Linked DNA regions of Homo sapiens: regions 1 and 2 are each linked to region 3. Evidence: fine-mapped expression QTL. A gene starts in region 3. Each other region holds a variant in brackets. All regions are shown on one strand. Distances are between the middles of the regions.

What was found. PIP is the estimated chance that this variant, and not a neighbour inherited with it, causes the effect.
Region 1: its variant is the best candidate, but not a certain one, in a credible set for the expression of LINC01579 in sigmoid colon (GTEx, PIP 0.73).
Region 2: its variant is the best candidate, but not a certain one, in a credible set for the expression of LINC01579 in prefrontal cortex (CommonMind, PIP 0.89).

What each region holds. Positions count from the first base shown.
Region 1 is chr15:94,094,032-94,096,795 of GRCh38, reverse strand. All of the region lies in intron 1 of LINC01581 (long intergenic non-protein coding RNA 1581), which reads left to right. The region is part of intron 1 of LOC105369203 (a long non-coding RNA gene); the gene reads left to right. Among named protein-coding and RNA genes, the nearest start is that of LINC01581, 13 kb to the left of the region's middle. The variant GTA/A (reference allele first, on the strand shown) is at 1,124.
Region 2 is chr15:93,173,942-93,176,705 of GRCh38, reverse strand. No RefSeq gene overlaps it. Among named protein-coding and RNA genes, the nearest start is that of RGMA, 86 kb to the right of the region's middle. The variant A/G (reference allele first, on the strand shown) is at 1,581.
Region 3 is chr15:93,898,952-93,901,715 of GRCh38, reverse strand. LINC01579 (long intergenic non-protein coding RNA 1579) reads left to right here and starts at 1,117. Exons shown (of 4, transcript NR_138083.1): 1 at 1,117-1,365; 2 at 1,581-1,680; 3 at 2,380-2,452. It overlaps LINC01580 (long intergenic non-protein coding RNA 1580), which reads right to left and starts at 1,015. Exons shown (of 3, transcript NR_120323.1): 1 at 938-1,015.

The DNA.
Region 1 (2,764 bases), 200 kb before region 3:
TAAACATTTACTTACTACCCATTAGAATATAAGCATGGTGGTTCACCCCCGTAATCCCAGAACTTTGGGAGGATAAAGTGGCTGGAGATACCTTGGGCTCAGGAGTTCCAGACCAGCCTGGGCAACATGGTGAAACCCTTTCTCTACAAAAACACCAAATATTAGCCTGGTATTGTGACTTGTGTCTGCAGTCCAAGCTACTTGGAAGGCTGAGGTGGGAGAATTCCCTGAACCCAGGAGGCCGAGGCTGCACTGAGCCGAGATCATGCCACTGTACTCCAGCCTGAGGGATGGAGTGAGACCTTGTCTCAAAAAAAAAAAAAAAAAAATTATAAGATCAAGTACTTCATCTGTTTGTTCACTCTTCACTATGGACTACTCACTGTTCAGAGGAGTCCCTGTTGCACGCAAGTTACCCAATAAATCATCATTAAATAAATGAATAAATTAGTGCTTCAGTATAAATGTATGACTTTGTTTAACCCCTAGCACACGAGGAGAATATTTCCCCTTACTCTCGCCAACAATAGTAAGCTTTTAACGTTTGCGTGAGCAACAGAAAATGCTAAATGGCACTTACCGTGGGCTGGGTACTGTTATAGGTACTACATATATGAAAACTTATTTCATCCTTACAACAATCCTTTTACTGATGACAAAACAGAGAAGTTGAATAACTTGCCTGTGGACCGTGTAGCTAGTAAATGGTAGAATGAAGTTGCAAACCTTAAGCCCATGTTCTTAATCATTTTACTTTACAATTTCATTATTCCATTAAAAATGCTACCTATGACCAGGAGAGGTGGCTCACGCCTGTAGTCCCAGCACTTTGGGAAGATCACTTGAGGTCAGGAGTTCGAGACCAGCCTGGCCAACATGGTGAAACCCCGTCTCTACTAAAAATACAAAAAATAGCTCAGTATGGTGGCGGGCTCCTCTAATCCCAGATACTCAGGAGGCTGAGGCAGGAGAACCCTTGAACCTGGGAGGCGGAGGTTTCAGTGAGCTGAGATCGTGCCATTGCACTCCAGCCTGGACGACAAGAGCGAAACTCCTGTCTCAAAAAAAATGCTACCTATTGTTATTTTATTTTGCATTGCTTCTACTACTGGTGTGTGTGTGT[GTA/A]AGAGACTTTTGTATATTTAATGACCATTTGTATATTTTAATATAAAATACAACTGCAGGTTCTTTGCTCTTCATTTTTTTCCAACATAAGTTGGGATTTTGATCTTCCTCTGATTTATTCATAAGAATCTTTTATATTTATATTTCAGGGCTACTAAATCTTTGTCAATGGCGATTTTTCTTTGACGAATAAAACAATTTTTATATAGTCAAATGGAGCAATTTTTTTTCTTTTAGACTTTCGGGCTTTAATGATGTGTTAGCAAATGCTTCCCTATGATTTAATTTTTATGTGATAATTTCATTTTTAAAATAATCCTTTGCCTTTAAAAAATATATAACGTGACTTTGAATCAGACCAACTATCCCAGTAGTCTCCAACATGGCTGTACATTAGCATCTCCCATGTGTCTGAGTCAGATCCTGAACCAACTGAATCAGAATTTCTGGAGTTAGATCCTGCATATCTTTACATTTCAGATGTGAACCCCAATGATATATCTTTCTTTCTGATGTTTCTTTTTTGTATACTAGTAAAATAATCACCCAATCAGGGATATGATGTACTGTAACCTTTCTTCACCTGACAGTATATATTAAGTTTTGTTATCAGCATTATTGCAGTGTTGTAAAAGTTGTCTGCAAGTTTTCTTCTTCTGCTACCTCCTGGGACAATTTAAGTTGTAAAATGATTTCTTTTATTCTTATTCATCTCTACATTTAAAAATATCTCTTGTGTTAATTCCGGCAATTTGTATTTCTATATAGAAATTATCTCCATTAAAACTTTAAAATATAGTTCTAGATTTTTTGATTCCCCCAGTATTTTTGGTTTTCAGTTAGAGCCCTAGCAAGTCTATATAAAATACACTGAGGATGGTAATCTGATGGGGTTATGGTGGGAGCTATTCTTAGACTTGTATGGAAGCTCTGTTTGCATAGCATTTTATCTGAATTTGAAGAAAGATCCATTGTCTGTGTCAAATATTAATATTCCAGAGATGTACACAAAGCAGATTTTCATGTATTCACTGTCTCTTTTCAAGGATATGGCTTCCCCTATAACTCCTAGATAGGATCTGGAAAGGAATACAATTCTAGTCCCTTAATAGCATTAAAAGTAGGAAGAAAGATGTTTCAAAGTGAATGAGTCATGTAATGTTTGCCATTGTTTTTACCCTCACTTTCTATAATATGTACCATAAATCTCTATTTCACTTTGAGACGAATTGTGTCTTCTATACATTTTTTCCTGAATAAAGAAATGCCTGTCTTATTATCACAGATTGGCTCTTTGTGTTGTTAAACCTTTACAAAAAAGAAAAAAAAAAAGGCTTTTTAAAATAGAGAAAATACAGAGTATCTGTAAGACTCCTTTCAACTATTATTTATATGCAAATAAATATCTACAATTACTCCTGCCAGATAGAAGGTGAAGAGTGTTAACAAGCATAGGCGCATAAAACTCAGGTTTTCTATGCGGAAGTTGGGATAATCTGATCCTGGGAAGACTGAGTGATACTATTAATCAGATGTGATGAAAGTGCAAACCAATTGCAATGAGCCATACAATTTGTGCAAGATAGAATAGCAAATTATATATCTGATAGGAAGTTAATATCATATATATATATGGTAG
Region 2 (2,764 bases), 730 kb after region 3:
CAGGAAGGCTACCAGTATTTTCAATTTGTAAATGAGGATCCAAGAAGTGAATGACTTGGCCGTAGTCATGGAGGTGGAGGCGAAATAAAAGACGCAGGCTATGCCCTTTGCGTGCCCCACCACCTTCTCAGATGGCGCTGGGCTACCTCCCAGGGCTTAGGCAGAGTGAAGAAGAAGAGATGAAAGCTAAGATGAGGCAAACAGGAGGTGAGAGAGAAGTTCTGTCAGGAAATTCACAGGAGGGCTGCAGAAAACTCATCTTTGCCCGCAATGCCTACTCCAGCCGGATATTAACACAGTGGGCTCCACACCAACATTCTGATAGATTCTGAGCTACAAGCTTCCAGAATATTAGCAGCTGAGCTCCTCCCCCTCGGGCCAAATATGCCACCAAAAAGCTGTTTCCCAGGTGATTTATTGTAGGTCAGAACCCTAATCAAGCTCCAATTCAATTTAACTGCTGGTGATTTTAGCACAGTGCTCTGAGCTTCCATTTAAATGCAAGGGGAATTGACTTTTGGAGTAACAGCTTCAGGGGAGGCTTTCTTCCCATGCCTAGATGGAGCAGAAGCTCACACTGTGCACCCAGCAATGAACTGGGACCCTTTTGGAGGCACCTGACTCGGGCTTCTGGATTCTGTCAGGAGGCAGATGTGCCATTACCAAGAGGCCAGGCATTAGAAAGTGCTCAGCACGGTTCTCGCAGGGCAAAGGCAGCCCCCTGCTCAACTCACTCATACCTGAGGAGATGTGAAGCAAAGGTCACGGAAGGCCCAAGGTACTCCTGGCACCCCTAGACCCCAAAATACAAAGGACCAACAGCGCCATCAGGCACACACTCTCTCTCTCTGCCCCTTGGTCTCCCTCTGTCTCTTCAACTCTATATCTCTGTCTCTCTTTGTGTCTCTACCTCTTTCTCTCTGTCTCTCTGTTTCTATCTCTTGGCCTCTCTCTGTTTCTGTCTCTATATATTTCTCTCTGTATCTGTCTCTATCTCTCTGTCTGTGTCTCTATTTCTCTCTCTCTGCATCTCCGTCTCTCTCTCTCCACATCTGTATCTCTGCCTCTCCCTCTGTGTCTCTATCTTTCTCTCTGTCTCTATCTCCTCCCAGGGCGGAGGAGCTCAGCTGCTAATATTCTGGAAGCTTGTAGTTCAGAATCTATCAGAATGTTGGTGGGGAGCCCTCCGTGTTGATATCTGGCTGGAGCAGGCATTGCAGGCAAAGATGAGTTTTCTGCAGCCCTCTCTCTGTCTCTGTTTCTGTCTCTGTCTATCTCTTTCTCTGTCTCTTTCTATCTCTGTCTCCATCTCTCTTATCCCTCTGTGCCTTTCTGTCTCTGTCTCTATCTCTGTCTCTTTGTCTCTGTCTCTATTTCTGTTTCTGTCTATCTCTGTCTCTCTTTCTGTCTCTCTGTCTCTGTCTCTCTCTGTCCCTGTCTCTCTGTCTGTCTTTCAGTCTCTGTCACTGTCTCTCATATGCTCAAGGGTATTTATGCTACGTGGGCATTTGCAAGGAGCTTTTGAGTCTGAGTTATCATCTGGGATTTCTATCAGGCTCCATCTGCTTCCAGAACTGTGT[A/G]CAAACAGTAACATCCAAAGCTCAGAAAAGGGAGGACATAAAACATTTTCATTTGTTCTGACCAGAAAAGCCATATGATCTAGAATGTGTGAAAGAAAGTCAGAAAAAATAAGGGAAAACAGATTGTCAGTGCTGGTCATAGCCCACAAGAGTCTCTCAGACCCAAACAATGTGGCCCAGACGTACATAAAACAAGCCCACAACATATGCCTGTGTCCAACAGCACAGCTTTCTGAGCCACTCCTCCTTGTCTACTGGAAGAGCAAATGAACCTGGTTGAAATCCTGGCTCTACAGCTTTCTACTATGTCATCTTGAGCAAATTCTTAACTTTTCTGAGCCTCAGTTCCCTCCACTGCAAAATAGGACTAGTAATTTCTACTATGTAGGAGTATCATGAAGATTAAACCCTTTAAAAACCTCTAGCATGGTGTCTACCACGTCACAAGGGTTCAGTAAATGGTAATGGTGGTGATGGCTGTTGTGGTGTGGTGATGGTGGCAAAGATGATGGCACTGAAGGTGGTAATGAGAGTGAAGGTGGTAATGGTGGCAGTGGTGGTGGTAGAGGGATGTGGTGATGGGAACTATGGAAGAGGAGATTAAGATGGTGCTGGTGGAGGTGGTAGTTGCAGTAGCAGCATCAGCATTTTAGGAAGACCAGGCATATCAGTGACAAACTGCTCCTGCTTGTCAGATGCATTTCTCCCTAAAAGACTTCCAGAATCACCATTATGCATTCCAATCCTGCTATGATTGGATATTTGACCCTCCAAACCTCATGTTGAAATTTCATCCCCGATCTTGAAGGTGGAGCCTAGTAGGAGCTGTTCGATCACAGGGGTGGATCTCTCATGAACAGCATGTGCTATCCTCATAGTAACAAGGGAGAGTTCCTGCTCTATTAGGCCCCAAAAGAGTCCCCTTGAGAGCTGGTTGTTAAAACAAGCCTGGCACCTTTTCCCTTGCTCTTGCTTCCTCTCTCATCATGTGATCTGCACACACCAGCTCCCCCTTCACCTTCTGCCTTGAGTGGAAGCTTCCTGAGGCCCTCGCCAGAAGCAGATGCCTATGCTACGCTTCTTGTACAGCCTGCAGAACCGTGAGCCAAATAAACCTCTTTTCTTCATAAATTACCCAGCTTCAAGTTGAACAATGAGAACACATGGACACAGGGAGGGGAACA
Region 3 (2,764 bases):
TGCTTGAGCCCAGGAGGTTGAGGCTGAAGTGAGCCATAATCACACCACTGCACTCCAGCCTGGGCAATAAAGCAACAAAGTGAGACCCTGTATTTCTCAAACAAACAAAAACAAAAAACAAAAAACAAGAAGGAAGAAAGAGAAGAAGAAAGAAAAGAAAAATACATAAATAAAAATAGACACATAGACATGCTGTAGAGTTATTACGGGCATACAGTGTGCCAAGCACATATGTATGAGCTTTACATATAGTGACTTTCATAACAACCCTATAAAATAGAATGACCATAGTTACAGAAGTAGTCACAATAGTAATTGTAGTAGCAGCAGTGATGGCACCGGCCACCTGTCTGGAGCGGCCGCTGCAAAGACACCGGCTGCACCAGGGGAGGTGCCGCCAGAGCTGCGCACTCAGCAAAGCCAGGGTGGGTGGAGGGCCGGGGCGGGGGGAGCTGGGAACAGGCAGGGGTCCCGCCCCCTACCGAGCTAAAGGGTGGGGAACCCGTGCTAGGGGCACAGCTGCAGAGCTGCCGCCGCAGACCCAGGCATCCCTGTGCTTTCGGGGGGCCAGGAAGCCCCTGACCCCACAGGTTCAGCAGTGCCTGCTTGCTCCCATTCCTGGCCTCTGCCTGCTCCCTGTGCCCACTTCAATTTTGGAGCAAAGTGATGGCCAAGCCTGGGTGCTGCTGCAACCTGGCCAGGCGTGCGCATGCTCAGGGAGGCGCTGTTACACCAGCCCCCTGCCTCCTCAGCCCCCTCTGGACTTTGGGCACTGATGAGCACGGGAGAGAGGCGAGGAGGCGCTGTGGGCTGCTGGGCTCAGGCCTAGAGGCGCCCTTCAAAACGAACAGCCTGGGTGCTGTGGAGGGCACGTTGATGGCAGCAAAAGGAAGACAGGCTACTGGACAGAAAGGGACGGGTCCCAGTGAAGCCCCACCTTCAAGCCAGGGATGGCTTCAATCCTGGAGGCCGCGCTGTCAGTTCCGGTCGGAGTCTGTGGCCTGGAGTGAGCACTAATGGTTCTTTTTCCAGGCCCGCCCATGGCCACCCATGGACCAATCAGCATGCACTTCCTCCCTTCTGAACCCATAAAAACCCCGCTCCCCGGACGCAGCCGGAGTCACGCGAAGTCGGAAGTACCAGCTGCGGGAAGGAGCTGCCCACTGTGCGTCTTCTCAACTTGTTGGGACAACCTTCCTGCGGAAAGGAGAGACAACCTTCCTGCAGAAAGGAGCTACCTGCTTCAGGTCTACTGAGAGCTGTTCTGCCACTCAATAAAGCTCTTCTCCATCTTGCTAAGCCTCCATTTGTCCGCAATACCTCATCTCCCTGGACGCAGGACAAGAACTCAGGACCCGCCTGGAGGTACTAAAAGAGCTTTAACACAAACAGGGCTGAAACACGCTCCCTTGCTTGCCACATTGCGGGTGACGAGAAGGAGAAAAGAGCTGTGTTCCTTTGAGGATCCCAGACCTAGGGTCTCCCTGAGCCAGGGCTGTGACACTCCCTTTGGGGTTCTATGGTTCCTGGCATCTTCAAGCTTCCAGGCGCCACCACCTTCGTTCCCTTCATCCAAACAGGTGCCCACAGCAGAATCCACATGCCGTCCATCTGGTCCAGCCTCACGCAGAGCCACAACTGTGCTGGCGCCTGGAGCTGCCAGCCCCACTGCAGCAGCCGGTATGTATGGCTGTTGCCGGTCCCTGCGCTCGTTCACCCACACACCCCTTGCGGCTCCGCGCCTAGCTCTCCCTGGGCAGGTGTGGGATCTGGGCTGGTGGCGGGAGCCAAGCACAGCCTACCGGGCCAAGTGGGCGGAACAAGCCCAGTGGGCACGAGCAATACTCAGGCAGAAGGTGCTGCCAGCAACAGAGGTTTCTGGCTGATGAAACGACACCTCAAGGATCCCATGACAGCAGTAATAGTAGCTGTGGTAGCAGTCATAATAGTAGTTATTGTACTAGCAGACGTAGTAGTTATAACAATAGTTATAATAGTTGTCTTAATAGCAGTGAGAGTAGTTACAGTAGCAGTTAAAATCGTTGTAGGAACAGCAACTACAAATACTTGATTGACTAACACTAGTACAACTAAGATATTTATAGTACTTACCATGCACCGGAGAGTTCACACACATTATTCTTTGCCTTTTGACCATTTTCCTCCTTTGAGATAATTGTCTCCTCATCTGTCTCTCCTCTCTCTCCTTTAGGCATTTCATCTGTGAAACTATTTATATCCCTTAAGGGATGCCCCTCCATATCTTTATATCTACTTCTCCTTCATCCCAGCTCCAATATTGTGTCTTACCATCATTATGTTTTGTAAAAGGAAAAAAGAAGCCATTCCCTACTTTAAACTTCTCTGCTTTGTATCTAGGACTGACATTCAGACGTGGAGCAAGTTGGACTGCATAGGGACCCACCAGTGAGATGGACGCTGTCTGTAAACGGTAGGGATGGCGGCCCGTCGCGGTGGCTCACGCCTGTAACCCCAGCACTTTGGGAGGGCGAGACGGGCGGATTATGAGGTCAGGACACCGAGACCATCCTGGCTAACACGGTGAAACCCCATCTCTACTAAAAAAAAAAAAAAATCAGCCGGGTGTGGTAGTGTACCTGTAGTCCCAGCTACTTGGGAGGCGGAGGCAAGAGAATCGCTTGAACCCGGGAGGCGGAGGTTGCAGGTAGCCGAGATAGCGGCATTGCACTCCATCCTGGGTGACACAGTGAGACTCTGTCTCAAAAACAAACAAACAAACAAA